Linked DNA regions of Homo sapiens. The protein of the gene in region 3 interacts with the protein of the main gene of each other region in a pairwise test. Each region holds a gene or a part of one and is shown on either strand. Other genes may lie near its edges.

The links.
Region 1: the proteins of MARCHF8 (region 3) and FA2H interact in binary tests that used the Homo sapiens proteins (3 or more experiments, as listed by UniProt).
Region 2: the proteins of MARCHF8 (region 3) and TMEM14C interact in binary tests that used the Homo sapiens proteins (3 or more experiments, as listed by UniProt).
Region 4: the proteins of MARCHF8 (region 3) and ARR3 interact in binary tests that used the Homo sapiens proteins (3 or more experiments, as listed by UniProt).

What each region holds. Positions count from the first base shown.
Region 1 is NC_000016.10:74,715,803-74,722,830, reverse strand, and holds part of FA2H (fatty acid 2-hydroxylase), read left to right. Parts: intron 1-3,670; coding exon 3,671-3,843; intron 3,844-4,257; coding exon of another isoform or gene 4,258-4,581; exon of another isoform or gene 4,582-6,231; coding exon 6,232-6,484; intron 6,485-7,028. UniProt on the Homo sapiens protein: Catalyzes the hydroxylation of free fatty acids at the C-2 position to produce 2-hydroxy fatty acids, which are building blocks of sphingolipids and glycosphingolipids common in neural tissue and epidermis.
Region 2 is NC_000006.12:10,726,044-10,731,629, forward strand, and holds the end of TMEM14C (transmembrane protein 14C), read left to right. Parts: intron 1-2,596; coding exon 2,597-2,684; intron 2,685-4,571; coding exon 4,572-4,623; 3' UTR 4,624-5,084; downstream 5,085-5,586. UniProt on the Homo sapiens protein: Required for normal heme biosynthesis.
Region 3 is NC_000010.11:45,525,348-45,532,375, reverse strand, and holds part of MARCHF8 (E3 ubiquitin-protein ligase MARCHF8), read left to right. Parts: intron 1-7,028. UniProt on the Homo sapiens protein: E3 ubiquitin-protein ligase that plays several important roles in innate immunity and adaptive immunity.
Region 4 is NC_000023.11:70,263,424-70,271,348, forward strand, and holds the start of ARR3 (arrestin-C), read left to right. Parts: upstream 1-4,910; 5' UTR 4,911-4,949; intron 4,950-5,932; 5' UTR 5,933-5,962; coding exon 5,963-5,970; intron 5,971-6,238; coding exon 6,239-6,269; intron 6,270-6,419; coding exon 6,420-6,480; intron 6,481-6,652; coding exon of another isoform or gene 6,653-6,676; coding exon 6,677-6,721; intron 6,722-7,925. UniProt on the Homo sapiens protein: May play a role in an as yet undefined retina-specific signal transduction. Could bind to photoactivated-phosphorylated red/green opsins.

The DNA.
Region 1 (7,028 bases), on a different chromosome or scaffold from region 3:
CAAGCGATTCTCCTGCCTCAGCCTCCCAGGTAACTGGGATTACAGGCATGCACCACCATGACCGGCTAATTTTTGTATTTTTAGAGACGGAAGTTTCTCCATGTTGGTCAGGCTGGTCTCGAACTCCTGACCTCAGCTGATCCGCCCACCTCAGCCTCCCAAAGTGCTGCAATTACAGGCATGAGCCACTGCATCCGGCCCAGAAGACAGATTTTTAAGGACTTGACAAGCCAATGGGAAGTGGCAAAGTGGAGCCATGAGTCCAACCTACGTTTTCTTTTCTTTTTTTCTTTTTGAGACAGGGTCTTGCTCTGTCATCCAGGCTGGAGTGCAATGGTGCAATCACAGCTCACTGCAGGCTTGAACTGCTGGGCTCAAGTGATCCCCCTGCCTCAGCCTCCTCAGTAGCTGGGACTATAGGCATGAGCCACCATGCCCAGCTAATTTTTTTACTTTTTGTTGAGGCGGGGTCTCACTGTGTTGCCCAGGCTGGCCTCAAACTCCTGGGCTCAAACGATCCTCCCACCTCAGCCTCTCAAAGTGCTGGGATTACAGGCATGAGCCCCCATGTTCAGCCTAGCCTGACTTTTTAGGAGCCTTGATGATGAAGGGGCTGAGTCCATGATGGGAAAGTCTTGCCTACCTCAGAAAGATGAGCAGAAGAGCCAGGAGAAAAGGAGAGACTGAAGGAGCCCAGAGGAGTCCCTTGGGAGGGAGGGTGGGAGGAGGCGGCTGAGGGCTTTGCACTGCCGAGCAGGGGGAGCCTGGCAAGTCATGGACTTTGGGCCTCCACGTCCTCAATCATGCAGGCAATGCAGGGCTTCCCTTGTAAGGCTGTGGTGAGATGAAATAGGAAGTAATCCATGGAAGGCCCTTGGGCGGTGCCTGGCACACAGGAATCAGTCAGGACACATCTGCCGTTACTGTTGCTCTGATCATCCAGCGCCCGCGTGCCGGTGCACACCTCTTCCCTGAGAAGCAAGGAGGATGCGCCAGGGTACCGGCAGAATGTGGTGTGCTTGGAAGTTGGGGGAAGTATGTGGAGGGGATAGTTCCTCCCCAACCCCAGGGCCTCTCTTCTCTGTGAAGTAGGAAGCTGGGTGGAAGGAGAGGCAGTAAAGGGGAGTAGAGCGTGTTCAAGGGCAGTGGGGAGGGAGCTGAACTTGAAGATGCACAGGGATCATCCATCAGGCTGTGTCTAGGGTCTTGCAGAGGTTAAAGGTGCCAGACCCACAGCTGTGTGAGTCTCCATGCTCAGCAGCTTGGGTATGGGGTACAAAGGCAGGTTCCTGCGCTGACCCAGGGGTGAGGGTTCATGGGTGCAGGTGAGGGAGATGGAGTAAGGGTTAAAAGAGAACGGCTAGGCCAAGCATGATGGCTCACTCCTGTAATCCCAGCCCTTTGGGAGGCCAAGGTGGGTGGATCATTTGAGGTCAGGAGCTCAAGACCAGCCTGACCAACATGTTGAAACTCTGTCTCTACTAAAAATACAAAAATTAGTTGGGCATGGTGGCGCACACCTATAATCCCAGCTACCCGGGAGGCTGAGGCAGGAGAATCACTTGAACCCGTGAGGTGGAGGCTGCAGTGAGCCGAGATCGTCCCATTGCACTCCAGCCTGGGTGACAAGAGCGAAACTCTGCCTCACAAAAAAAAAAGAGAGAGAGAATGGCTAGCTTTGGAAAACAGTCTGGCTATTCTTCAAAAGGTTAAACATAGAGTTATGATATGAACCAACAGTACCACTCCTGGGCTTGTACCCAAGAGAAAGGACAACATCTTTTCACACTGAAACCTCTACACGAATGTGCATAGCAGCACTATTCACAATAGCCAAGAGCTACAAACAGCCCAGGTGTCCCTCAACTGATGGATGGATGAATAAAGTTTGAATATCATTCAGTCTTAAAAAGGAATGGAGTTGTAATACATGTTACAACATGGGTGAATGTTGAACATATTCGGTAAGAGAAGCCGGTCATAAAAGACCATATGTCATATGATTCAATTGACGTGAAATGTCCAGAATAGGCAAATCCAACAAAGAGGAAGTAGACCTGTAGCTTCCTAGGGTTGGGAGGGTCTGAGAAGAAATGGGGAGTGGCTGCTAATGGGTACAGGGGCTTGGCGGGGAAGTGATAAAAATGTTGTAAAATTGACTGGGGTGACGGTTTAACAACTTTGTGAGTGTACTAAAAAGCACTGAATTATATATTTTATTTGGATGAATTATATGGATGTGAATTAGATTTAGATAAAGCCGTTAAGAAGAGAGAAGATATGGCCAAAGCTATGGTTTGTAGAGAAAAGAAACAAAGATAAGAGGATGAGGATGGGCTGGGCACGGTGGCTCATATCTGTAATCCCAGCACTTTGGGAGGCTGAGGAGGGCAGATCACTTGAGGTCAGGATTTCAAGACCAGCCTGGATAATATGGTGAAACCCCCTCTCTACTAAAAATATAAAAATTAGCCAGGTGTGGTGGCACACACCTGTAATCCCGGCTACTCAGGAGACTGAGGCAGGAGAATCACTTGAACCCGGGAGGTGGAGGTTGCAGTGAGCTGAGATCACACCACTGCACTCCAGCCTAGGCAACAGAGCAAGACTCTATCTCACAAAAAAAAAAAAAAAAAAAAAAAAAAAAAAAGGATGAGGATGAATATATGGAGCAAACAGGAATGAGAGCTGAAATCTCCATGAGGTCAAAGAATGAATGAGGTGGAGGAAAGAGCTGAAAGCCGCTAGGACTGCAGGCTGTCTCCGGAGGGTGGTGGGAAGCATGTGCTTGAAGATGGTGCCCTGTCTCCAGTCTTCTCCTCTCCACCTAGGCTGATCATCTTCAGTGTTTTCACATCTTCCTCCTGTGCTATGATTTCAGGTCTTGTCTGTTGAGATCTCGGTGCTTGTTTTTTCTTGTCCTTCCTGCCCCATGGTCCCTGGTGGGTCACACTTCCCATCATTAACACCCTGGAGGCCAGGCACAGTGGCTCCCTTCTGTTATCTCAGCACTTTGGGAGGCCAAGGCGAGAGAATTGCTTGAGTCTGGGAGTTTGAGACCAGCCTGGGCAACATAGCAAGATCTCGTCTCTACAAAAAAAATAAAAATAAAAAATAAATTTAAAATTAGCTGGGTGCGGTGGCATGCACCTGTGGTCCCAGCTACTTGAGAAGCTGAGGTGGAAGGATCGCTTGAGCCCAGGAAGGGAAGGCTGCAGTAAGCTGTAATCACACCACTGCCCTCCAGCACTCCAGCACTCCAGTCTTCCAACCTGGGCGACACAGAGATACCTTGTCTCAAGATAATAATAACAACGCCCTGGCTCAGGAGTGTCGCCTTCTCTTCTCCAATGTCCTTGGGGCAAGGTCACCCTTCCAGGTAAAGGCCCAGCCCCAGCCACAGCCACTCCTCCCACAGCCTCTGTAAGGAGGATGTCAGGCCTCCAGCCAGTGGCCCATCACTCCTGTAAAGGACTTCCCAGACCCAGACCAGAGTCCTACAGCCTCCTTCCCATTTTGACTCAAGGACCCCAGCAGTATGGCCTGGCCCTGTAGCTGTCCAACAGAGGGCAGCAGCTCCCGAGCTGATGGGGATGGTGAGGCAGGGACACCTGGAGCTACCAGGCTGCTATGCACCGGTCCTCACCTCGCTCTCCCTGCCACCCTGCAGAGTACACGGTGGCAGTGCCCAAGTCCATGTTCCCCGGGCTCTTCATGCTGGGGACATTCCTCTGGAGCCTCATCGAGTACCTCATCCACCGCTTCCTGTTCCACATGAAGCCCCCCAGCGACAGCTATTACCTCATCATGCTGCACTTCGTCATGCACGGCCAGCACCACAAGGTGAGCGGGGCGGGGTCCCAGCCCGGACCTAGCATGTGCAGCCCGAGAGGGCCCGGCAGCCAGCCGCAGCTTCAGGTGCTGCGGAGCCTCCTGGGAGTCTGGCTGTGGGTTGGGAGGGACGGGACGTTTGATGTGACTCACGGGGCAACTGGGTTGGGCATCCGAACCTAAGCCAGGCGGGGACAGCGTGGGTGTGCAGCATCAAGCTGACCCCAGGCCCTCTGCACCCTTGTTTACGCATCACCTTTAATCCTCAAAACAACTCATTCATTCGTTCATTCATTCAGCAAATGCCCAGTGAGTGCCTCCTGTGTGCGAGACACTGTTCTAGACATCATTGAACAAAACAACAAAAAGCCTTGCGCTCCTGGAGCTTGTGCTGAAAACAGCCCCATGGTTCTCCCCGTTCCACAGAGCAGGAGACTGAGGCCTAGGAGGACTAAGGAACTTGCCCCAGGTCACACTTGGCACAGCCAGGATGTCGTACCCCATTCTGGGGATTCCAGAGTCTGCGCTCTCAATCACCCTTCCCCTGAGGCCCTTCAAGGACTCCACGACAGTCCCAGAAGCTGGCCCGAGAAGATAGGTCTGCCCAAAGGAAGCTACCTCCCCTGTACCCCCCGCTGCTTCTCTGTCCCTGCATTGTGCTGTCCTTGGCCCATCCCAGGCTGTTCCCCAGCCCGTCTCCACACTCTGTTCTCTGCTGGGCATAAATCAGAGAAAATATGGCAGATATGATACTTTCGGGACACCAGTTTAGACCCTGATGTCGCTGATACTGAACGTGGGTTTCACCTTGGTTTCCCAGCAGCAACTTAATCCGGTTCATCTCGATGAGCCGATTCGGGGTTTGATCGGCCGCCTGGGACAGTTCTCAGGTTGGTTGGCTGTGGTCCTCCCGGCTCTCCCCAGAGTTGATCTGCATCCTAGGGGGCTTTCCTAGGGGCCAGTATCAGGGTGGGTGCCCAGTCCTGGGCCAACCTGTCTCTCAGGTATGCTCTCAGAGGTAGCGCAGCCCAGGCCTGGCCTGTGTCCTCCAGCCTCACCTGGCCTCTGCTCTGCAGAGCTCACTGCATCTGCTTCTGTGTCCCTTGCCCTGTTTGTGAAGCCTTTTCAGATCCACTGCCCTGTCCGCTATCTTTCCCATCCACAGGGGACACCAGAACCTTCTGGGAACCTGCTCAGGCCATTCTGGGGCCCCAGGGGCTGTCTCAGGCTCCCTCTTTTGAGACACTTCCACCCCAGTCTGTCCAGTCCCCTGCTGCCACACCATGAGGACCCGAGGAGACTGTATGGCCTGTAGCCACGTGGGCTCCAATCAGGAACGTGTTCTCAGATCCCCAGACCTATCCATCTAAGGATCCTGATCCAGCTGTGACCCGGATCTGGCCCATACCAGCTCACAAGAGCACCCATGCACATCCTTTCCTGTTTCTGTTCCAGTGACGCCACCTCAGCGCTTGAAAGCGCCAGGGCAGTTTTCACACTGCAGGAATTGGCAAACACTACCAATCAGGGCTCTCCCTCCCTCCCTTTATTTCCCCCTCCCTCATTCCCCAGCTCTCTCCCTTCCTCCTTTTCCTGAGAGCTGGTTTTCCAGCACATCACTGGTCCTGTTGTTCCTGGTCTGAAGGGAGGGAGGCCCACGCCAGCATCTCATTGTGTCACTGTCACCTGCTTTCTCTCTCTCTCCTCCAGCCCAGAGAGGCTGCAGGATTCTCTTCTCAGACTCCTCACCAAGCCATAGCTAAGATCTCACCTCTATGCCAGGCCCTTGGCTTCTGAAGCTCGAGGGCCACGGTGAAGCGGTGTTCTCTGGTTCACTGTGGCGACACCCCCTTGGAACAAAAAAGGCCTCCTGTTTGGACATGGGGGTGGGGAGGACACCTCTAGTGACACTTCCGGGTCATCCCGCCACAGAGGCTGCATTAACCTCAGTTGCCCTCAGTGCCTTGCTCTCCCAGACAACATCAGGCCTCAGTCTAGGTGCCCTGTCTCCAGAATGCCCCTCTAGCCAGGGGCACGGCATTTAGGGATGGGATACCTGTCTAGCACCTGACAAATTCCAGAGTCACAGTGGCCTCTATAAGATGGGCTCTGAGCCGCCAGCACACCCCACCCATCCTGCCCATCCTGCCCATCCCGCCCATCCCATGTTCCTTTGCAATCTGCCAGGTCCCTTCCTGGCTCACAAATGGGAAGTAAGACAGTCTCTCCAGATCTTCCAGACGTGGTGGCCCGCCCTCCCCAAAGCCACCAAAGGTGCCAAGCCTACGCAGTGGAATGTCTGGGCCGCTGTGCCCCTGTCCTCTGCAGGGAGTGGCCAGGGTTTGGCCAGCTGCCGGGGCCCCTGGCTGCCTCCTGATGCCCAAGCCTCTCCATCTGCAGGCACCCTTCGACGGCTCCCGCCTGGTCTTCCCCCCTGTGCCAGCCTCCCTGGTGATCGGCGTCTTCTACTTGTGCATGCAGCTCATCCTGCCCGAGGCAGTAGGGGGCACTGTGTTTGCGGGGGGCCTCCTGGGCTACGTCCTCTATGACATGACCCATTACTACCTGCACTTTGGCTCGCCGCACAAGGGCTCCTACCTGTACAGCCTGAAGGCCCACCACGTCAAGCACCACTTTGCACATCAGAAGTCAGGTGAGGATGGGCCTGTGCTTCCCAGCCCCCTATGTGTGTTCATTGATTTATTTGCCAACTACCATCGAGCTCCTGGGAACGGCAAGGCACTGTTCCATGTACGGGGCATATACAGAGGGTTCCCTCTACTCTCTTCCCTGGTGCAGACAGCTGTGCAGAGACAGGCAAGGACATCAATAAATGGCAAAGATTTCAAACTGTGATAAATGCCATAAAGAAAATAAAGGGGCTGGGTGTGGTGGCTCACACCTGTAATCCCAGCCGAGGGGATTGGGAAGCCGAGGCAGGTAGATCACTTGAGGTCAGGAGTTTGGGACCAGCCTGGCCAACATGGTGAAACCTGTCTCCACTAGAAATACAAAAATTAGCGGGGTGTGGTTGTGCCCACCTATAATCTCAGCTACTTGGGAGGCTGAGGCATGAGAATAGCTTGAATCCAGGAGGCAGAAGCTACAGTGAGCTAAGATTGCACCACTGCACTCCAGCCTGGGCAACAGAGCAAGGCTCTGTCTATAAAAAAAAAAAAAAAAAGAAGAAGAAGAAG
Region 2 (5,586 bases), on a different chromosome or scaffold from region 3:
GTATCCAGAATACTCTTTTCCAAAAGACCCTGGTTTGGTGGGATGGGGTGAGTTCTTCACACTTCACTTACGACAATTTCACTGCTTCTACCAAGTCCTCAGAAAGTTTTAAAATGAGGGTGCAGAGGCAGGAATTATGCTGGTTTCTGTTTATCTTTTACATACAGAACATGGAAGGATTTTCATAGCTCGTGACTATATTTACCCAGTAGCATTAAAATTCTATCAGGCAAATGTATCAACCGTTGAGGTTGCCCACTGAAGACCTTTGGCTTCAGCATCACTAAACTATCACACGTCTGGGTTAGGTTTGCATCTGAATTGCGATTTCCCCATTTGAAAATCACCTCTTTAGCAGTTAGCTAAATGTGACTGCAGTGACTCACACCTGTAATCCCAGCACTTTGGGAGGCCGAGGCAAGTGGATTACAAGGTGAGAAGTTCGAGACCAGCCTGACCAACATGGTGAAACCCCATCTCTACTAAAAATACAAAAATTAGCTGGGGGTGGTGGCGGGTGCCTGTAGTCCCAGCTACTTGGGAGGCTGAGGCAGGAGAATCACTTGAACCTGGGAGGCAGAGATTGCAGTTGAGCTGAGATCACACCACTGCACTCCAGCCTGGGCGACAGAGCAAGACTCCATGTCAAAAAACAAAAAACATAGGCATAGAAGCAGGACTGGAAAGGTACCCTGTAAGCAGCACGGACAGTGAGTGGTGTGGGGGACCGAAGAGTCCTCCTTATCAGAGTGGCTTTCAGTACATTTCTGTGGGGCTCCACCCATGTGTCAGACACTGCTAGGAGTGTGGGTTCCTTGCGGTCTCTACAAACCCCGTGTGAGAATGAGTGCCATGTGGGAGGGAGAAGCCATGTGATCTGTACATATCAGCTGGGGTGGGGAAGGGAGGTCCGTGATGGCTAATGGGGTGTGCTGGGGAAGGAGGTGTGTCCAGGTCCCAGCTCTGCCTAACAGCTCCCTCCCTCATGCTCCAGAATGACTTGAGCCTGCATTTTCCCTTTCTCTGATGCTACTCTACTCAGCAAATGACCTCACGCCTATTGTAGGGAAAAAACAGCAGCCATCAGGTGGGGACTCCTGGAGCCTTTAATCTCCAAGCCTCCCCTCGTCCTGTTTCCCTCCTCTCCAACACCAGTGTCTTCCTCTGGGCTTTGGGTGTCTTCTCCCTGATCTTCTCCAGACCTTTACACTGGCCAGGATCCTGTCTTGTATTTGTATTCCTCCTTTTAGGTGGATCCCCGCATTGATATTCAGATGTGCTTGTCTCCTTCCCCTTCATAAACTTCCCTTTTTTTGAGATGGAGTCTCACATATTGCCCAGGCCAGAGTGTAGTGGCACAACCTTGGCTCACTGCAACCTCCACCTCCCAGATTCAAGCAATTCTCCTATCTCAGCCTTCTAGGTAGCTGGGATTCAGGCGTCCACCAACATGCCCGGCTAATTTTTCTATTTTTAGTAGAGACAGGAGTTTCGCCATGTTGTCCAGGCTGGTCTGTAACTCCTGACTTCAGGTTTGGGAGGCCAAGGAGGGTGGATTGCCTGAGCTCAGGAGTTTGAGACCACCGTAGGCAACGTGGTGAAACCCGGTCTCTAATTTAAAAAAAAAATTAGCCAGGCGTGGTGGCGGACGCCTGTAGTCCGAGTTACTCAGGAGGCTGAGACTTGAGAATTGCTTGATCCCAGGAGGTGGAGGTTGCAGTGAGCCAAGATCACGCCACTGCACTCTAGCCTGGGCGACAGATCAAGACTCTGTCTCAAAAATTAAAAAAAAAAATGTGACTCTGTTCATGTGTCCTTCTGCTTAGCATCCTTTAATAGCTTCTCATTGTTCTTACGATGAAAACCCAAACCCCAGTATGGCCTTCAAGGCTCCATGTGGTCTGGCACCTCTTACTCACAAACTGCATCTTGACTTCTGTGCCATGCTGCCCTTTTAGGGTGAATGTCCCATGCTCCCTGTCACCACAGGGCCTCTGCATATACTGTCCCCTCTGCCTGGAATGGGCCTTCCCATCCTTCAGCTCATTAATTCCTGCGTAATTTCAGATCTCAGCCAATCTTCACTTTTTTGTCTAAGCCTTTTTATTCGTGTGAGTCTTTAAAGTCTGTCCCATCAGACCTGAAGCACTGTAAAAGGGCAAAGACAGTTACAATAACCTTTGTATTCTCCAGCTCCTAGCACAGCACTTGACATGTAGTAGGTGCTTCGACAGATACCCAGTGGGAATTGTGTGCAGGGTAGAGGAAGTAGCGTCTGCAGGGCGTGAGAAACAGTAGCATTTTGGAGAAAACTAACATATTGATGGCTAAAGTGTGGGTTTTGCAGAAGACAAGTGGTAAGAGATGAAGCTGGAAGGGCAGGCAGGACCCAGGCTGTGAAGGGCCCTATTTGGCCAATATTGGTACTAGGACCCATAGGATGTGGGCAGTCAGTAGTCTCCCCGACTTGGGGAAAGAGGAATAAGCATAGGATGAGGCGTGAGCCTTGAGAGATGGGTGGGGCTTGGCCCACTTCTGATTCCCCTGCGTAGAAGATGTAATGAGTTTTAACACTTCTTTATATGTTTTTCATCAGCTACATCTGGTACCTTGGCTGGCATTATGGGAATGAGGTTCTACCACTCTGGAAAATTCATGCCTGCAGGTTTAATTGCAGGTGCCAGGTACTTTCATTCTATTACTCTTCTTTACCATGTAGAGTTCAGTTTATTCCCCAGGATACCTTATGCATTCAAAACCTTACTTGTTTCAGGATATCTGATGCTATGTATCAACTGACATTTGATATATACACTAATAGGAAATGTTTCAAAAACAATAGCTAGTTTAATGTCAAAATGGCATGAGTATATCCATTCACCGTGGAAATGGGTTTGTTCTCATATTTGCTTTCCAGTCCATCCAAACTCCTCCCTATATGGTGGCAGAAGTTTTAGTGCAAAGCCATGACTGCAGCCTTTTGTGTGACTTGCATGGAAGATTTGGGGGCCCCATATTTCTTAGATGTGTAGATGTCTTTTACAGAAAATTTTGCTAAAAGAGAATTTTGATTGAATCCTGTTTTCTATTTTTTGTTGTTGTTATTGAGACGGAGTATCACTCTGTCACCCAGGATGGAGTGCAATGGCGTGATCTCCGCTCACTGCAATCACCATCTGCCTCCCGGGTTCAAGCGATTCTCATGCCTCAGCCTCCGGAGTAGCTGGGATTACAGGCGTGCACCACCATGCCCAGCTATTTTTGTTGTTTTGGTAGAGATGGTGTTTCACCACATTGGCCAGGCTGGTCTGGAACTCCTGATCTTGTGATCCGCCCACTTCGGCCTCCCAAAGTGCTGGGATTACAGGCGTGACCCACTGCGGCTGGCCCTGTTTTCTAATTTTGATTATAAAACCTAAACCAAATTGTGGTTTTTAAAAAATTTAGTTGTGGCTGGGCACAGTGGTTCACACCTGTAATCCCAGCAATTTGGGAGGCAGAGGCAGGCGGATCACCTGATGTCAGGGGTTCAAGACCATCCTGGCCAACATTGCGAAACCCCGTCTCTATGAAAAATACAAAAATTAGCTGGTTATGGTAGTGGGCACTTGTAATCCCAGCTACTCGGAAGGCTGGGGCAGGGAGAATTGCTTCAACCTGGGAAGCGGAGATTACAGTGAGCTGAGATCATGCCACTGCACTCCAGCCTGGGGGACAGAGCAAGACTCCATCTCAAAAAACAAACAAACAAACAAACAAAACTTTAGTTGTAGGCCAGGTGTGGTGGCTCATGCCTACAATCCCAGCACTTTGGGAGGCCAGAGCGGGCGGATCACTTGAGGTCAGGAGTTCAAGACCAGTCTGCCCAACATGGTGAAACCCCATCTCTATGAAAAATACAAAAATTAGCCGGGCATGGTGGTGCACACCTGTAATCACAGCTACTTGGGACACTGAGTCAGGAAAATCTCTTGAACCTGGGAGACGGAGGTTGCAGTGAGCCGAAATTGTGCTGCTGAACTCCAGCCTGGGCAACAGAGGTGAGTGAGACTCCATCTGAAAAAATAAAAATAAAAAACCTTCTCAAAAACAAAAAATTTAGTTAAGTATCATAAAGACATCCTGAAGGTAGGGGAATTTTTAAAAATCTGTTTTGGAGAAAGATTACATACTCTGATCATAGTTGTGATGCTACCAGTATAATGTTTTATACCTGAAGCAAGGAAGTCAGTGTGGAGCAAGGTCTAGAGCAGTAAACTGAGACGCTGGAGAGTCTACCATTAATCAGATCTGTGATGGTGGGGAGGCCTTGCTCTCTCTTGCCTCCATTTCTTCATCTCTTCAAATTATTGGCAGTTGGGTTAGGATCCAGCTCATGTGTGCTATTTTAAGACTCCCTTGGCTTGCTTTTTCTCTGGTTCCTCCAGGGATGGAAATTTACCCCTGACCACTCTTGCCTTAGTACCTCCTCCCCCACGCAGTTGTGAGGAACCAGCAGTTTAGTTCCTTAAAAACATAGTTGCCTGTTCTGTCCTTTACCTGACATTTTCTATCTTGTTTCTTTTAAACAGTTTGCTGATGGTCGCCAAAGTTGGAGTTAGTATGTTCAACAGACCCCATTAGCAGAAGTCATGTTCCAGCTTAGACTGATGAAGAATTAAAAATCTGCATCTTCCACTATTTTCAATATATTAAGAGAAATAAGTGCAGCATTTTTGCATCTGACATTTTACCTAAAAAAAAAGACACCAAACTTGGCAGAGAGGTGGAAAATCAGTCATGATTACAAACCTACAGAGGTGGCGAGTATGTAACACAAGAGCTTAATAAGACCCTCATAGAGCTTGATTCTTGTATATTGATGTTGTCTTTTCTTTCTGTATCTGTAGGTAAATCTCAAGGGTAAAATGTTAGGTGTCAGCTTTCAGGGCTCTGAAACCCCATTCCCTGCTCTGAGGAACAGTGTGAAAAAAAGTCTTTTAGGAGATTTACAATATCTGTTCTTTTGCTCATCTTAGACCACAGACTGACTTTGAAATTATGTTAAGTGAAATATCAATGAAAATAAAGTTTACTATAAATAATATTTCCTATGGGGTCTTCATTGCCAGAGCTGTCTAGTTCATAGAATGAGATATTGCTAGCAGCAAGATATAGAAACATGAAAGTATTTTGTTAATATTTAGAAATTACCTATTTTGAATAACTTAAGGACCAAGGAAACTTATTTGATTGTACATTGCATTGAAGCTTGTTTCAAAAATGACCTCTGAGGATTTTTTTTGTTTTTCAAGAGACAAGGTCTTTCTCTGTTGCCTAGGCTGGAGGGCAGTGGTGCAATCATATGTCACTGTAGCCTCAAACTCTTGGGTTCAGTCATCCCACCTCAGCCTCCTGAATAGCTGGTACTACTGGTGCATACCACCACACCCAGCTAATGTACTTTTTTTTTTTTTGGAGATGCAGTCTTGCTCTGTTGCCCAGGCTGGTCTCAAACTCCTGGTCTCAAGTGATCCTCTCGCTTTGGCCTCCCAAAATGTACTGGAGTAATAAGCATGACCTACTGTACCTGGCCACTGAGGTTTT
Region 3 (7,028 bases):
GTACATGGGGAAGCTATACAAACTTGTTTGGAATAGAAAAAGGAAAATGTCCAACAGTTAGGCCAGGAAGGGAGATTCTTTTTGATATACACCCTCACTGCAGGTTTACTGTAGGTGGTTATTTAATAAAGCCTTATTGAATTTATCTATTTGATGGGATTTTTAAGGTCTAAATAAATAGCATTAATCAATTATTTGTAGAATGGGGATTTTTATTGGTATTGGGAAGAAAGAGAAACCATTCTGTCTTACCTTAGTGTGGGGATGGTTTGAACACCCAGTGGCAGCCTGACAGTTCAGGGTGTCGTGGAGCCCAGATGAGGTGGCAGTAGTGGAAGAGCAGTTGAACCAGGAACTTGCAGGGCCCCGTGAGAGCTTCAGCAGCAATGGCACAGGATGAAAATAGTGGTTGTGTTTCTAGGGTCTCAATTGTGGTATCAGGTTTGATTTGAAAGGTAAATTTTTGTCCAGTGGAGCCCATTTTTATTTATGCAGTTTTTCCTGGCACAGGTTCAACCCAAAATCTTTTGCTATGATTTCTGATCCTCCTGTGCTTGGGAGATATTATTCCTACTGAGTCCCATAAGAAGAGTGAACCCTTGCATTTTACCTAGACTCAAATAATCCACCTGTTTGCTTAGTCTAATCTGTTAACACACCCTCGCTGAAGCCCATAACTTCTACAGAGGGTTAATGACTTTTATACAGTACTCAATACAGTTGATGAATGAATGAATGAGTGAATATGAATTCAGTTTCAGTGATATGGGTCATGTCACTGTGGAGATGATCTTTTATTTCAAATACAGTATGAGAACCTTACAATAGTATACTTTCATTTCTTTCCTTCTGGCCTTTTCATTATTGTCTTTTAATAAATTTTAAACCCTAGAATATATTTAAAAAAATACTTTCTCTTTAAATACTTTTCTTTTAAATAATAATAAAGATCTGTTTACTCAGATAATTACCATTTCTGGTGTATTTCCATCTATCATTTTTCTTTTGTCTAAAGGACTTTAGCATTTCTTATAATGTGAGTTGGCTGACAATGACTTCTTTCAGCTTTATTTAAAAAATATTTTTTATTTGTTTCTTGTATTCTGAAGTTGTGCTTGTGGATCAGTGGGTTTACAATTTTCATAGAATTTGGAGCTTTTTGGCTATTCTTCAGATACTTTTTCTGTCCCCCCATTCTTTCTTTGGGGACTCCAGTATACACATTGACTGGCTTAAAGTTGTCCACTGCTGCACTTTTAATTTTTTAAGGTTATTTTTTCTTTCTGCATTTTATTTTGGATATTCCAATTACTTTGTTTATAATTTCATTAATATTTTCTTTTTCAATATCTAATCTGCCAGTAATTCCGTCTAGTGTGTTTTTCATCTCAGACATGTTTTATCACTAGACATTTGTTTTGGATCTTTTTTATATCTTCCATGTCTCTATGCAACTTTTTTAGTATATGAAATAACAGCTATAATGACAGTTTTAGTCCTCTTTTCTGTCATTGTTGGCATGTGTGACTATTCTGAGTTTGCTTTTCTCCCTCACTTCGGTCAGTTTTATTTTCATTTTTGTTATTATTTTTTACTTATTTTTGAGTACAGATCTTGCTCTGTTGCCCAGGCTAGCATACAGTGGCGTGATCACAGCATACCGCAGCCACGAACTCCTGGGCTCAAATGATCCTCCTGCCTCAACCTCCCAAGTAGCTGGCACTATAGACCATGCCTGGATAAGTTTTTCTTTCATTTTGTAGAGTCGGGGTCTTGCTATTGCCCAGGCTGGTCTCAAACTCCTGGGCTTAAGCAATCCTCCCATCTTGGCCTCCCAAATTGCTGGGACTGCAAGTGTGAGCCACTGCACCTGGCCCAGTTTCATTTTTAAGTAAAAGTTTATTTCAGACTAGTTTTAGATTTACAGAAAAATTGTTAAGCTAGGATGGAGTATTTTCATATACCTGACACCCAGTTTCTCATATTGTTATTATTTATAGATTTAGTACAAGTGCAGTGTTGTTACACCACCTGAATAGTGCACATAAGCACCCATGAGGTAATTTCTCATCCCTCACCCACTCCCATCCTCCCACCTTTCTGAGTCTCCAATGTTATTATTCCACTCTCTATGCCCCTGTGTACATATTTTTCAGCTCCCACCTGTAAGTGAGAATATGTGATATTTGACTTGCTCTTTCTGAGTTATTTCACTTAAGATAGTTACCTCCAGTTCTATCCATGTTGCTACAAAAAAACATGAATTCATTCTTTTTTTATAGCTGAGTAGTATTCCATGATGTGGATTACTTTATCCAATCATCCGTTGATGGGCACTTAGATTGATTTTATGTCTTTGCTATTGTGAGTAGTCCTGCAATAAATATTTGAGTACAGGTATCTTTTTGATATAATGATTTCTTTCCCTTTGCGTAGATCCCCAGTAGTGGGATCACTGGATCAAATGGTATTTCTATTAGTTCTTTGAGAAGTCTCCATATTGTTTTCCATAGCAGCTGTACTAGTTTACACTCCCAACAACAGTCTGTGAGCATTCCCTTTTATCTGCATCCTTGCCAACATCTGTTATTGATTTTTTTGACACCTGAGTAATAGCCATTCTGACTGGTGTGAAATGGTATTTCATCGCTTTTATTTGCATTTCTAACTTTTTAAATGTTTCTTGGCCATTTGTATGTCATCTTTTGCAAAATATGTGTTCATGCCCTTTGCCCATTTTTTAAAAAGGTTATTTTTTTCTTGTTGAGTTCTTTGTAGAGTCTACAAATTAGCTTTTTGTAAGATGCATAGTCTGCAGATATTTTCTCCTGTTCTGTAGATTGTCTGTTTTCTCTGTTGATTATTTATTTGCTGTGTAGAAGCTTTTTATTTTAATTAAGTCCCATTTGTCTATTTTCATTTTTGTAGCTTTCCTTTTGAGGTCCTAGGCATGAATTCTTTGCCTTAGGCCAATGTCCAGAAGAGTTTTTCCTAGGTTTTCTTCTAGAATCTTTATAGTTTCAGATCTTTCAGGTCTTTATACTTTCAGGTCTTTAATCCATCTTAAGTTGATTTTTGTATATGGTGAGAGATATGGGTCCAGTGTCATTCTACTGTATATGGTTACCCAATTCTCCCAAGTATCATGTATAGAATAGGGTGTTCTTCCACTAGTGTATGTTTTTGTTGACTTTGAAGAAGATCATTTGCCTGTAGGCATGTGTCTTTAATTTGGGTTCTGTAAGCTGTTTCATTGACCTGTGTGTCTCTTTTTATAATAGTTTTGGTTGTTATAGCCTTATAGTACAATTTGAAGTCAAGTAATTTGATGCCTCAAGTATTGTTCTTTTTGCTTACCATTGCTTTGGCCATTCAGGCTCTTTTCTGGTTCCTTGGGTATTTTAGGATTGTTTTTTCTAATATTGTGAAAAACAATGTTAGTATTTTTATAGGAATTGCATCTGCAGATTTCTTTGAGTAGTATGGTCATTTTAATGATACTGATTCTTCTAACCCATGATCATGTTTGTGTCATATGTGATTTCTTTCGTCAGCGTTTTGTAGTTTTTCTTGTAGAGATCTTTCACATCCTTGGTTGAGTGTATTTCTGAGTATTTTATTATTTTTTTGTAGCTATTGTAAATGGGATTGACTTCTTGGTTTGGTTCTTGATTTGGTTCTCAGCTTGATTATATCATTGTTGTATAGAAATGCTACTGATTCCTCCTCACAACAAAAAATACAAAAATTAGCTGGGTGTGGTGGCACGTGCCTGTAAGTCCCAGCGACTTGGGATGCTGAGGTGGGAGGATCACTTGAGCCCAGGAGGTCGAGGCTGCGCTAAGCTATGACTGCGCCACTGTGCTCCAGCCTGGGTAACAGAGTGAGACCGTTTCAAAAACAAACAAAGAAACAAACCCCAACTAAACAAAAGAAATACTACTGATTTTGTAGGTCGATTTTGTATCCTGAAACTCTACTGAATTAATTTATCAAATTTACGAGTGTTTTGGAGGAGTCTTAGGGTTTTCCAGGTATAAAATTATATCAGCAAACAGAGATAGTTTAACTTCCTCTTTTACAATTTAGATGTCTTTTCTTTCTTTCTATTGCATTACTGCTCTGGCCCGATAGGACTTTTAGTACTGTGTTGAGTAGGAGTGGTAAGAGTGGGGATCCTTGTCTTCTTCCATTTCTTAAGGGGAATGCTTTCAACCTTTCCCCATTCAGTATGATGTTGGCTGTGGGATTCTTGTATATGGGTTTTATTATTTTGAGGTATGTTCCTACTACACCAAGTTGTTGAGTGGTTTTTATCATGAAAGAATGCTGAATTTTATCAAATGCTTTTTCTGTATCTATCGAGATAATATGGTTTTTGTTTTTAATCCTGTTTATGTGGCAGATCACATTTATTGATTTTTGTATGTTAAACCCTACTTGTATCCCTGGAATATAACCCACTTGATTGTGGTGTACCATGTTTTTTGATGTGCTGTTGGATTTGGTTTGCTAGTATTTTCTTGAGCGTTTTTGCATCTGTGTTCATTAGGGGTACTGATTGATTCTGTTTCTGTTTTTGTGTGTCCTTGCTTGGATTTGGTGTTAGGGTGATACTGGCTTCAGTTAGAGAGGATTTTCTTCAATTTGGGGGAACAGTGTTGTCAATAGGATTGGTACCTATTCTTCTATGTCTGGTAGAATTTGGCTGTGAATTCATCTGCTTCTGGGGTTTTTTGTTGTTGGGAGATTTTTTTTTATTTTTATTACTGGTTAAGTCTTACTGGTTATTGGTCTCTTCAGGCTTTCTCTTTCTTAGTTCATTCTTGAGAGGTTGTGTGTCTTTAGGAATTTACCTGTTTCATCTAGGTTTTCTAGTTCGTTAGTGTAGAGATGTTCATGGTAGACTCTGATGATCTTTTGTATTTCTGTGGTATCATTTGTAGTGTCTTTTTCATTTCTGATTGTGCTTATTTGAATTTTCTTTCTTCTTGGTTAATGTAGCTAGTAGGCTGTCAATTTTGTTTATCTTTTCAGTGAAGCAACTTTTTGTTTCTTTATCTTTTGGGTTTTTATGATCTGGATTTCATTTAGTTCTGCTCTTCATCATTTCTTTTCTTCTGGGTTTGGTTTGTTCTTGTTTTTCTAGTTCCTTGAGGTACTATGTCAGGTTAACTTGTGGTCTTTCTATTTTTTTCGATTTAGGCATTTAACGCTATAAACTTTTCTTTCTTGAATCCATTTACAGTCAACACTATAAGCTTTTGCTGTATTCCAGAGGTTTTGGTATGTTGTGTCTCTACTTTTGTTTAAAAAATTTTTAAACTTCCATCTTAATTTCATCACTGACCCAAAAATCATTCAAGAGCAGGTTAATTTCCATGTATTTGTATAGATTTGAGAGTCCTTCTTGGAATTGACTTTAGGTTTTTTCCACTGTAGTCTGAGAAGACAACTTGAAATGATTTCAGTTTTTTAAAAATTTATTGAGACTTGCTTCATTCCTTAAGATAAGGTCTGTCTTGGAAAATGTTCCACATGCTAATAAGAAGAATGTATATTCTGTGATTGTTGGGTAGCTTGTTATATAAACATCTGTTAGGTCTATTTGTTCTACAGTCCAATTTAAATCCAGTGGGGTTTTTTTTTTCTTTTTTTTTCTGTCTCAGTGGTCTGTCTAGTGCTGTCAGTGGGGTGTTGAAGTCCCCTCTTGTGCTATAAAGGAATGCCCAAGGCTGGGTAATTTATAAATAAGAGATTTTATTTGGCTCACTATTCTGCAGACTGTACAAGAAGCACAGTGGTTGTGTAAAAGTGCCTGGCCTCCTCTCTTCAGCCTGGCTTGTTGGCTGGTAGCAGCAGCTGCTCAGGGCTCGGAAGCCTGTGTACTCCCATGTGAGTTTGAGCAATGCCTCTGTCAATCTCCAGGCAACTCACTCTATTAGGCTGGAGACCTGCGAGGGTCAAGGGGGTCTCCCACAGCTAGCGTTGCAAAAGTCCATGGTGGGAATGTGGAGCCCTGGGAGTCTCTCATCTACCCTTTCCCAGCATCTAGAAGCTTCTTTCATCTCTCAGCAATCCTGGCTGAGCACGTGCCTTGCTTCCTTCTCCTTTGTGATCAGTGATTCCTGTTGCTTTTCAGTTGAATTCCAGTGTTCTGTTTTAGATGACCTATTTGAAGGGTGAATATCTACTCGCCGTTTTGGAGCTTTCCATGGAAGAGGCATGTACTAGCTGCATCTAGTTAGCCATCTTGAACCAAGCTTCCAGTTTCTCATATTATTAACATCTTAAAATAGTGTGCTGCATTCATCATAGTTAGTGAACTAATATGAATACATTATAGTTTTAAAGTCCATGCTTTATTCAGATTTCCCTACTTTTTAACTAATGTCCTTTTTGTGTTCCAGGATCTCATCTCTAGGATGTAGCATATTACATTTTGTTGTTGTATCTCCTTAGGCTCCTCTTGGCTATGACAGTTTCTCAGACTTCCCTTGTTTTAGATTACCTTGACAGTTTTGAAGAATACTGATCAGGTATTTTGTGGAATGTCCTTCTATGGGAATTGTCTGATATTTTTCTCATGACTAGACTAGGGTTATAGGTTTTGGGATGGAAGTCCACAGATACAATGTACCAGTTCATCACAACAGATCGAGTATACTATCAACATGATTTATGACTGATTTTCTTGACCACCTGGCTGATATAGTGACTATCAGGTCTCTCCACTATAAAGTTACTCTTTTTCTCCCCTTTTGTACTTCATTCTTTGGAAGGAAGTCACTAGGCATAGCCCACTTTAAAGAATGGGGAGTTGTGCTCCCCCTCCTTGAAGGTGGAGTCTTTACATGAATTATCTGGAATTCTTCTACATGTCTGGAACCCAAATTGCAAGATTGTCCAAAAAATACATTTTTCAATTTTCTGCCCTGTCCTCCTTGATAAAGGGATCCTGAAAGAAATGATCTGTATCCCAGGATTCCTGAAAGGTGATAAGTAAGAAGGTAATTCAATGATCAACT
Region 4 (7,925 bases), on a different chromosome or scaffold from region 3:
CCCAAAGATCCTCTCCTCTCCTCTCTCCTCTCCTCTCCTCTCCTCTCTCTCCCTCTCCACCATCTCTCTCCCCCTACCCCCACCCTCTCTTCCCCTTCTCTCTTGGAACATCCACTCTCATGATTTCAACTATGACTCAGAGGTTATCAAAAATTGTAATGGCCAAGAGACTCCAGCATACAGATCTCTCTCTAATCAAAATGCATCTCTCCTTCTCTCACACTCTTATCACATTTGATTTCTACAGAGATGGCACATACCACAGGCAGCCTAGAATTATACTCATTTGTGTTTTTGGCCATCTCCTCCTGATCCTCCCACCCCCATACCAGAACCAGAGCTCCTTGAGAACATGTACCTCATTTTACCTCTGTCTTTCCCATAGCCTTCCAGGTAAAGTTATTATAACATATGTTCTAGATATTTCCTTTCAAATTATATTCTCTGCTGTCCCCCAAAAAATGCCTTCCAATTCAGAGTTAAGAAAACAAGTACCTTCCACATAGTACATGTTCAATAATAGTTGTTGAGTGAATGAATGACTTAATTATAATTTGTTGAACTGAATGGTTCCCACATCTATAATCTAAGCCCTATATATGTTGTTTGCTATAGGACACACACACTTGGGTATCTCATTGATGTCTGGAATTTAGTATGCAGGAAAAGTTTACTATTTTTTCCCTGACAGAGATAAATAAGATGTACAAATACCATTATTGCTGACACCCTTCCATTGCCCTACTCCTCCAGTTTGTTCCAGTCCTCTCCCTCCTGGCCCTTCACATCTAATATTCGTAATTGTCTTGATGACAGTTTCTTTGCAAGGTTTGCTGTTTCCTTGGGGCTTTAAGAAGGAAAGGGGGAAGAGGCATGATTTCTAATCTCTTTATCTGAGTTAGGAGGAAAGGAACGAAGGAAGGGAGAGAAGGAGGGAAGGAGGGAGGGAGGGGAGAAAGGAGGAATAAAGGTAGGAAGGGAGGGAGAGGGAAGAAAATGAGGGAGGGAAGGTAAGTGATATAGTGGAAAAAATGCAGGCTTGGAGTCAGACAGACCTAGGGTTGAACTCTGGCTCCATCGCCTGCCGGCTATGACTATGGATAAGTCTTTCTGAACCTCCATTTCCTCATATGTAGAATGAGGATGCTAGCACCTAGCTTGTTGTGAGAAGACAATGAAGCAATGCATGTAAGGAACCCAGCAGAGTGCCCTCATTGTCGTTATTGAGAATTAAAGTATACGTGTATTTGGAAGGTGTGAGGTCCACTCCAATTGGCTGAATTTTCTTTATGAAGTGAACAAATGGAATTACCTGCTGAGAGTAAGTGGAACACGAAAGTCACTCAATCTCAATGGAAAGGAGTAGTGATCTGAAGCCCTGGATGTCTAAACTTACTAATAAAATCATTGGGAAGTGACTGGCTTCACATAGTTGTACACAAGTTAACTTTGTCCATATGTATTCTCTGTAGTGTGCCCTTTTTGTCTTTCTACATGTCCAACTTTATCTCCAGCAAGGCTGTTAACAACCTTAGAGTGGAGACCAGGACTAGTTTGTTCAGCACCTAGGACAGCACAGGAAATCTGTTTCTGCGATTTAATCCATCTATCTCCGTTCCGTCCTCCCCCACTGAGCTAATGCCTCATCCACATCCCACTTGAATCTTTTGCTATGTTTTCAGTTGCAATAACAGAAAATCCCAACTTAGATGACTGTTTTTAAAAAAGGAAATATATTATCTTGCATATAAGTTCAGTAGTGGGTGGCTTTGGAGCTGATTAATTCAGCAGTTCAACAATGTCATTAAAAAATCCTGATTCTTTCCATCTTTCTGATTTGCAAACCTCAGCATGTTATTTAGCAACTTTCATGGTCACAAGGTGGCTATTGCCGGTCAGGCATTGTTTCCAGACATGGCAATATTCAATGGTAAAAGAGGAAGGCCTCTTCCTGTATGCTTATTTTTATCATTCAAGAAAACTTTCCCAGAATCTCTCCAGCATACCTCCTCTCACATCACAGTGGCCTGAATTTCACCATGCCTATAACTAGGCTGATCACTGGCAAGGGGGATAAAACGACCATGACTGGCATAGAGGAGCACAGACTCATGCGGAGGAGGATGAATTACCTTAAAAATGGGGATTCTTTCCACAAGGAGGAAGAGGGAGATGACTATTGAGTTGGTAAGCAATTCTGTCTGCTACAACCTTTTACTGAATAACCCACTCCTTCCTCATGCAGACATCTGATCATCATTTTCTAACTGGAAGGTCTGGTTGGGGATATCATCCGGGTGTACAGAATGAGGGTGGGTAAGGACCTAAAAATATTTCTTCCACCCATGTATTATAGGGGCCAGAAACTCCATTAGCTATGCATTCCTTTGCCTACTTACTGTTGCATCCTTGTAAAATGCAAGTATTCCAGGTCAAAGCAAAACTGGTGACAGTTCTCTTTGGGAAGCTACTAACTGGAAAGAGGCACAAAGAAATTTTCTGGGGGGATGGAAATGTTCTATATCTTAACCTGGGTGGTCGTTATATGCGCGTTTACGCAGGTGTATTAGTTTCCTATGGATGCTGTAATAAATTACCACAGACTTGGTGACTTAAAACAATGCACAGTTCTTCTCTTACAGTTCTGGAGGTCAGAAGTCCAAAATCAGTTTCAATGGACCAAAATCAAGGTTTCAGCAGGGCCATGCCTGAGCAGGAACAGCCATCTTGCAGCCATGAGAGACTTTAGGGGAGAATCGATTTCTTTGTCTTTTCCAGTTTCTAGAGCTGTATTCCTTGCATTCCTTAGCTCATGGCCCCTTCCTCCGTCTTCAAAGCCAGCAGCCTAACATCTTGCTTCAGGCCTCATATTTCCTCCTATCTCAGAGTCAAAACTCTCTCTGCCCCTCTCTCATAAAGAGACTGGTGATTACATTAGGGCCCACCTGGATAATCCAGAATGATCTCCCTATTTCAACATCCTTAATTTATTCACATCTGCAAAGTCTCTTTTTCATATAAGGTAATGTTCATCGGTTCCCAGGATTAAGACCTGACATCTTTGGGGGCATAATTCAGCTTGCCACAGTAGGTAAAAATTCATTGAGCTGCAGTTAAGATTTGTGAATTTTACCTCAGTCAAGAAATGCACAAACTTCTGGAAAAGAGTAATGATTTACATTCCATCATAATAATGAATTAAAGACCTAGCAGATCTACTCTTTTCCTACCGAGAGGCCCATGGATCTGAGTAGAAAGAGAAGATAAGCGGGATTGAGTACCTAAAAGGGAGGTAGGAGCCTCGAGTGTGGGTCTAAAGACAAAAACAGGCTGACCACTAGTCATTCTAGAGATCTGGGAAAGGTTTCCTGAATGATGAAAATAAGCATACAAGAAGAGAGGCCTTCCTTTCCTGCCATTGAATATTGCCATGTCTGGCATGAAAAGTAGATTCATTCTGACTTTTCGCCTTCCTCGCAGACACCAACCTTGGCATGTATACAAATCTTTCCTGTATGTCCAGCATCAGTTCCTATCCCACTGTGGTACCTGCAGAATCTGGGCTTCTTGCACTATCTGAAAGCCCCTGAGAAGGAGAGAGTTATAGTAACTAAACAACCAGGCCCTGAGATGCATATTGGCTAGGAATGGCAGGGGCTGACACTGTGAACTGTGCAAAGAGAATATGGGACAGCTGTCCAGGGCCCTCAGTGAGGGGCAGGAGTTAGGGAAGGCCCTGCCCAGCCCTCTGAGCCATAGCCATAGCCATCCTCTGAGGAATGGACACCCCATTGTGGGGGTTGGGGTTGAGGGCTGTGTCTATAGATAACTACTAATGTCCAGACTGCTGTAAGGGGAGGTGAAGGAGGTCAGAGTCCTGAAACCCCAGAGCTTATAGATTCTGTCTCTACATTTTCTATGCCCGTGAAGCCTGAGCCTAGGCCCTGTGGGAAGGACAGTCAAGAAAGGAAGATTACTTTGTTGTTGCTGTTGTGGGGGTCCTGGCAGCTGAAGAGACAGAAATATCTCTAATTCCATGAGCGGTCATACGAGGCAAGAGAAGCTGCTTAGAGCATGGACTTAGTTAGTTTCAGGGATTGGACAGAGTCAAGAGCTGGGGTGAGGAGGTTTACCCTCGGTAGGGGTGACACAGATGTCAACCGCCTATTCCCTCCACATGCATGTCCTGCCAGAAGAACCTGTCCCTGGGCTGGGAATCTTATATTACCTTCCTCTCCAATGAGAAGAGAAGTTCAAGGCTCACAGACATGTGCATACACAGCTCAATGCACTCAGATCCCCCTCCACCACTCCTGCCCCCACTACCTACAGGAGATTGACTCCTGCTGTGCACATAAGCTGGGATAATCAGGGTTTCTAAACATCAGCTTCAAAAGTCCAATGTCCCAAAGTGGTGGGGGGCTGGGGACGAGGTACTCTTTCCCATACCCTTGGCTTTTGTGTGGCCTGGAGCCGCTGATATAGAGATTGGAGTGGGACACGAGGTATTCCTTTCAAAAACACAAAGGCCTATACTTTGAGCCCTCCCATTTCAATCCCCCACCATGCTTCACCTTTAAGACCTCCAACTCCACTTTGATCCCAGTTCTCAGGTTCAAGGCCTCACAAGGCCAAAATCCTGAAGTTACCCTTCTCAAACTCCCTTGCCTTTAACATCATCAGAATCAACCTCCTACCCCCACTCTGTCCCAGCAGCAATAGCCTGCTAATCTTTTAGCCACTAATCTTTTAGGCACTAATCTGCTTTCCAAACTCTTGGCACCTGAACTATTTATAGCAGTGTTTTATGCCCCCCCACCAAGAACCCTATTCTTTTCCCATGACCCCCACCAATCAAAACACTCAGAGGACTGTGGGTATAAGAGGCTGGGGAGGCAGGCATAGCAACCAGAGCTGGAGACTGATGTGAACTTCATCTCTCTCCCCAGGTAATATTCCAAAGCCCTCTACTTCTAGCCCATACTAAGCCCTATATCCCTTGCTCTTAGCATCCCTCTTAATATATCAGGCAGCAGTTGAGGGACACCCTTCCTGACATAGCCTATAGACATTCAGGCCTAGAGACCCTCCAAAGACCTCTGGAAGCTCCCCTAAGCTCACCCCCTGGGCCAGGCTCAGTAAGCATCAAAGGAAAGCACTAGAGAGACATCTCCCTCTCTCTAAGGATTCCCATCCAAAGGCCTAGCCCCTGGGGACCTGGATGGGGATAAGGATGGGAAAATCTAGGAAAGGCAATGAGAGGGATGAGTTGGTTCAAGGAGGACTTTCAACCTCCATAGAGACTTCTGTCACCAAAAACTGAGAGCATGAAGGCACCAACCCCTTCTCTCTCACACTTTTCTCCCTTCTTTGTTGAGAGTCAAGGGCATCATGAGGTGAACTCAGGTTCAGGATCCATTGCAGGAGCAGAAGGAGACAGAATCCATTGATTTGTCCATTCATTCATTCATTCATTCATTCATTCATGTATCCAACAAACATGTCTTGGCACCTAGTGTGTGCCAGGGGATGTCTAGCCTCATACAGACCAAGAAACACATTTTTCTCACACTTTTCTGGATGGAAGCCTCTGTCCAGCCTCTTTCCAGAGAAGTTCCTTCTCTCTCAGGGTTCTCAAGAGTTCCCCAGCCATTCTAGGAAGTTTGGCCCTTTCTGGAGAATACATAGTATGGTTAGTCAATGATTTGTACAAAATAGGAAGGTTTTTTTCCCCTCTTGCCCAAGATGGGCAAGAATATGGCTGAAGAAGTACCCTTGGCAGAAGGGAGAATAGGAGGTACTTGATGTGGGTGAGGTGTCTGTCTAAGGAGGAAAGGTTACATCACACTAGGTGTATATGGATGGTATGCTGGAGTGGGGTGAGAAGAATAGAAATGAAATGATTGAGCCTTTCTTCTTTCCCTTTTCCCAGAAAAGGCTCAACATCAACTATATAGCCAACATGTCCAAGTAAGAATTCCTTCTAATCCTCTGAACCTGTGAATTGCTCCCTACCCCAATCCAAGTATTTCCCTTTGGGGTAGGGGGATTTCCAATTTCTCCCTAACTTGTGTCCTTGGATTCTACCCCAATTATCCCTACCTTTGCCCCATCCTATGCTCCTGGAGCCTCTTCTCCTAATCCTAAGAATATTTCTTTTTCTCCCCAATTCCCTTATTTCCTCTTCCCTGCACTTCCAATCCCCCTCTCCATCCTCTTTCTGGTTTTCTCCTCATAGGGTGTTTAAGAAGACCAGCTCCAATGGGAAGGTGAGAGAACCTGGCCCAGCTGGGCAAATGAGAGGGCAAAAGGGATAGGTGGGTACATCCTTCAAGGTCTCAGGGGTCTGGGTTGGGGGTTTCAGGGGAATCCATTCAAAAATGATTGTGAGAATAACATGGGAAGTTGTTCCACAACAGCTCTCCATCTACCTGGGGAAACGGGACTTCGTGGACCATGTGGACACGGTGGAACCCATTGGTCAGTGAGTCCAAAAAAGGGAAGCCTGGGGAAAGAGGAATGGAAACTAGGGAGTAAAAGAAAGTCCAGGAAAGACCGTGCAGAAAAGGAGGCAAATTAAAGGGAAGAATAGGAAGAACCATTTCAGGGATCATCCTCTGTTTCATAGTCTGAGAGTTTTTCCTGACCAAAGTGCTGTCTGTCCTTCTCTCCACAGACGGTGTTGTCCTGGTTGATCCTGAGTACTTAAAATGTCGAAAGTGTAAGTGGAAATCCTTGTTGGTCTTTGTATGTTTCAGACAGGTAACCCGATGAGTGGATTGCACCAGAGTACAACAAAACCAGAAAGTGGCAGGAACTGCGAATGCCTTCTCTGGTGGAGGCTGACAACTGGGAATTCCAGCCCAGTGTGGCCAAATTTTCTAATTGTTAATGAGGAGCTGTAAACGAAGCTCAAAATAAGACTTTTAGAGGCCCAAAGTGTGAAAAGATTATGGTGCCCCCTTACCCAAATAATATTCAAAGTAAATATCTAAAGCATAAATTAAATTTTATTTTTCAAAATTACACAAAACTTACACTTGTGCTGAAATTAAAATAGCTTCTTTCAGAATTTCAGATTTTCTCTATTATTACTGGTGGTGCCCCTGCTTGGCTATTGATCTGGATCTTAGACTGCCTATAGAATGATCCAGTAAGTCAGAAATCCATATTTTAAGGCAAATTTCCTGATTTTCAAATGTCAGCAACTCACTAAAAGACTTTAGAAGCCTGGATAGATTATAAACTTTTTTTTTTTTTCTGTTGGCTAGATGTGACTTTCAGGCTGTCATTTTGTAACCTCTGGTATACGTCTTTCCATCTCCTTTTTTTGTGTAGGGAAACTGGCTGACCTTTTATTCAAGAAAAAAAAATCCCAAACAAAGAAACAAAACAACAACCATAGGAAGTAACACTAAGAAACATTACTCTGGCAGCAGTATTACAGATCAAGATTATGCTGATTTTTTTTTTTTGCTGCTTTTTTTCCTTTTAATTCTCACTATGGATTAACCCCACTGTGATCCAACTAGACTGAAAATTGGGTTTGATTTGAAAAAGGCTCTGAATGGGTTGATGAATACTAGTTCAGATGTAACTGTTAGATATTGGAGAATAAAGTAGCCTAAATCTCTCAGATTAAGCAGTGTAAATAAGCAATCAAATCGGTTTTAAGTATCAGAGGAACTTTGGGATAGACTCATAAATTAACCAACTTATTTAAGGTTCCCAAGTATTCTATATTTCTAAAACCTAAATCATTTTTTCACATTTCTACAAAATCTTCACAAGCTATGGAAAGAAATCTTTAGTTAAAAATATATGTTGTTCCAGGAAGAGATGCATTTTTCCTTTTATTCTAATCTTCTTTTATGTCCCCTTAGTAGAGTTTTATATTACTTTTCATTTAAGTTGTGCATATTTCT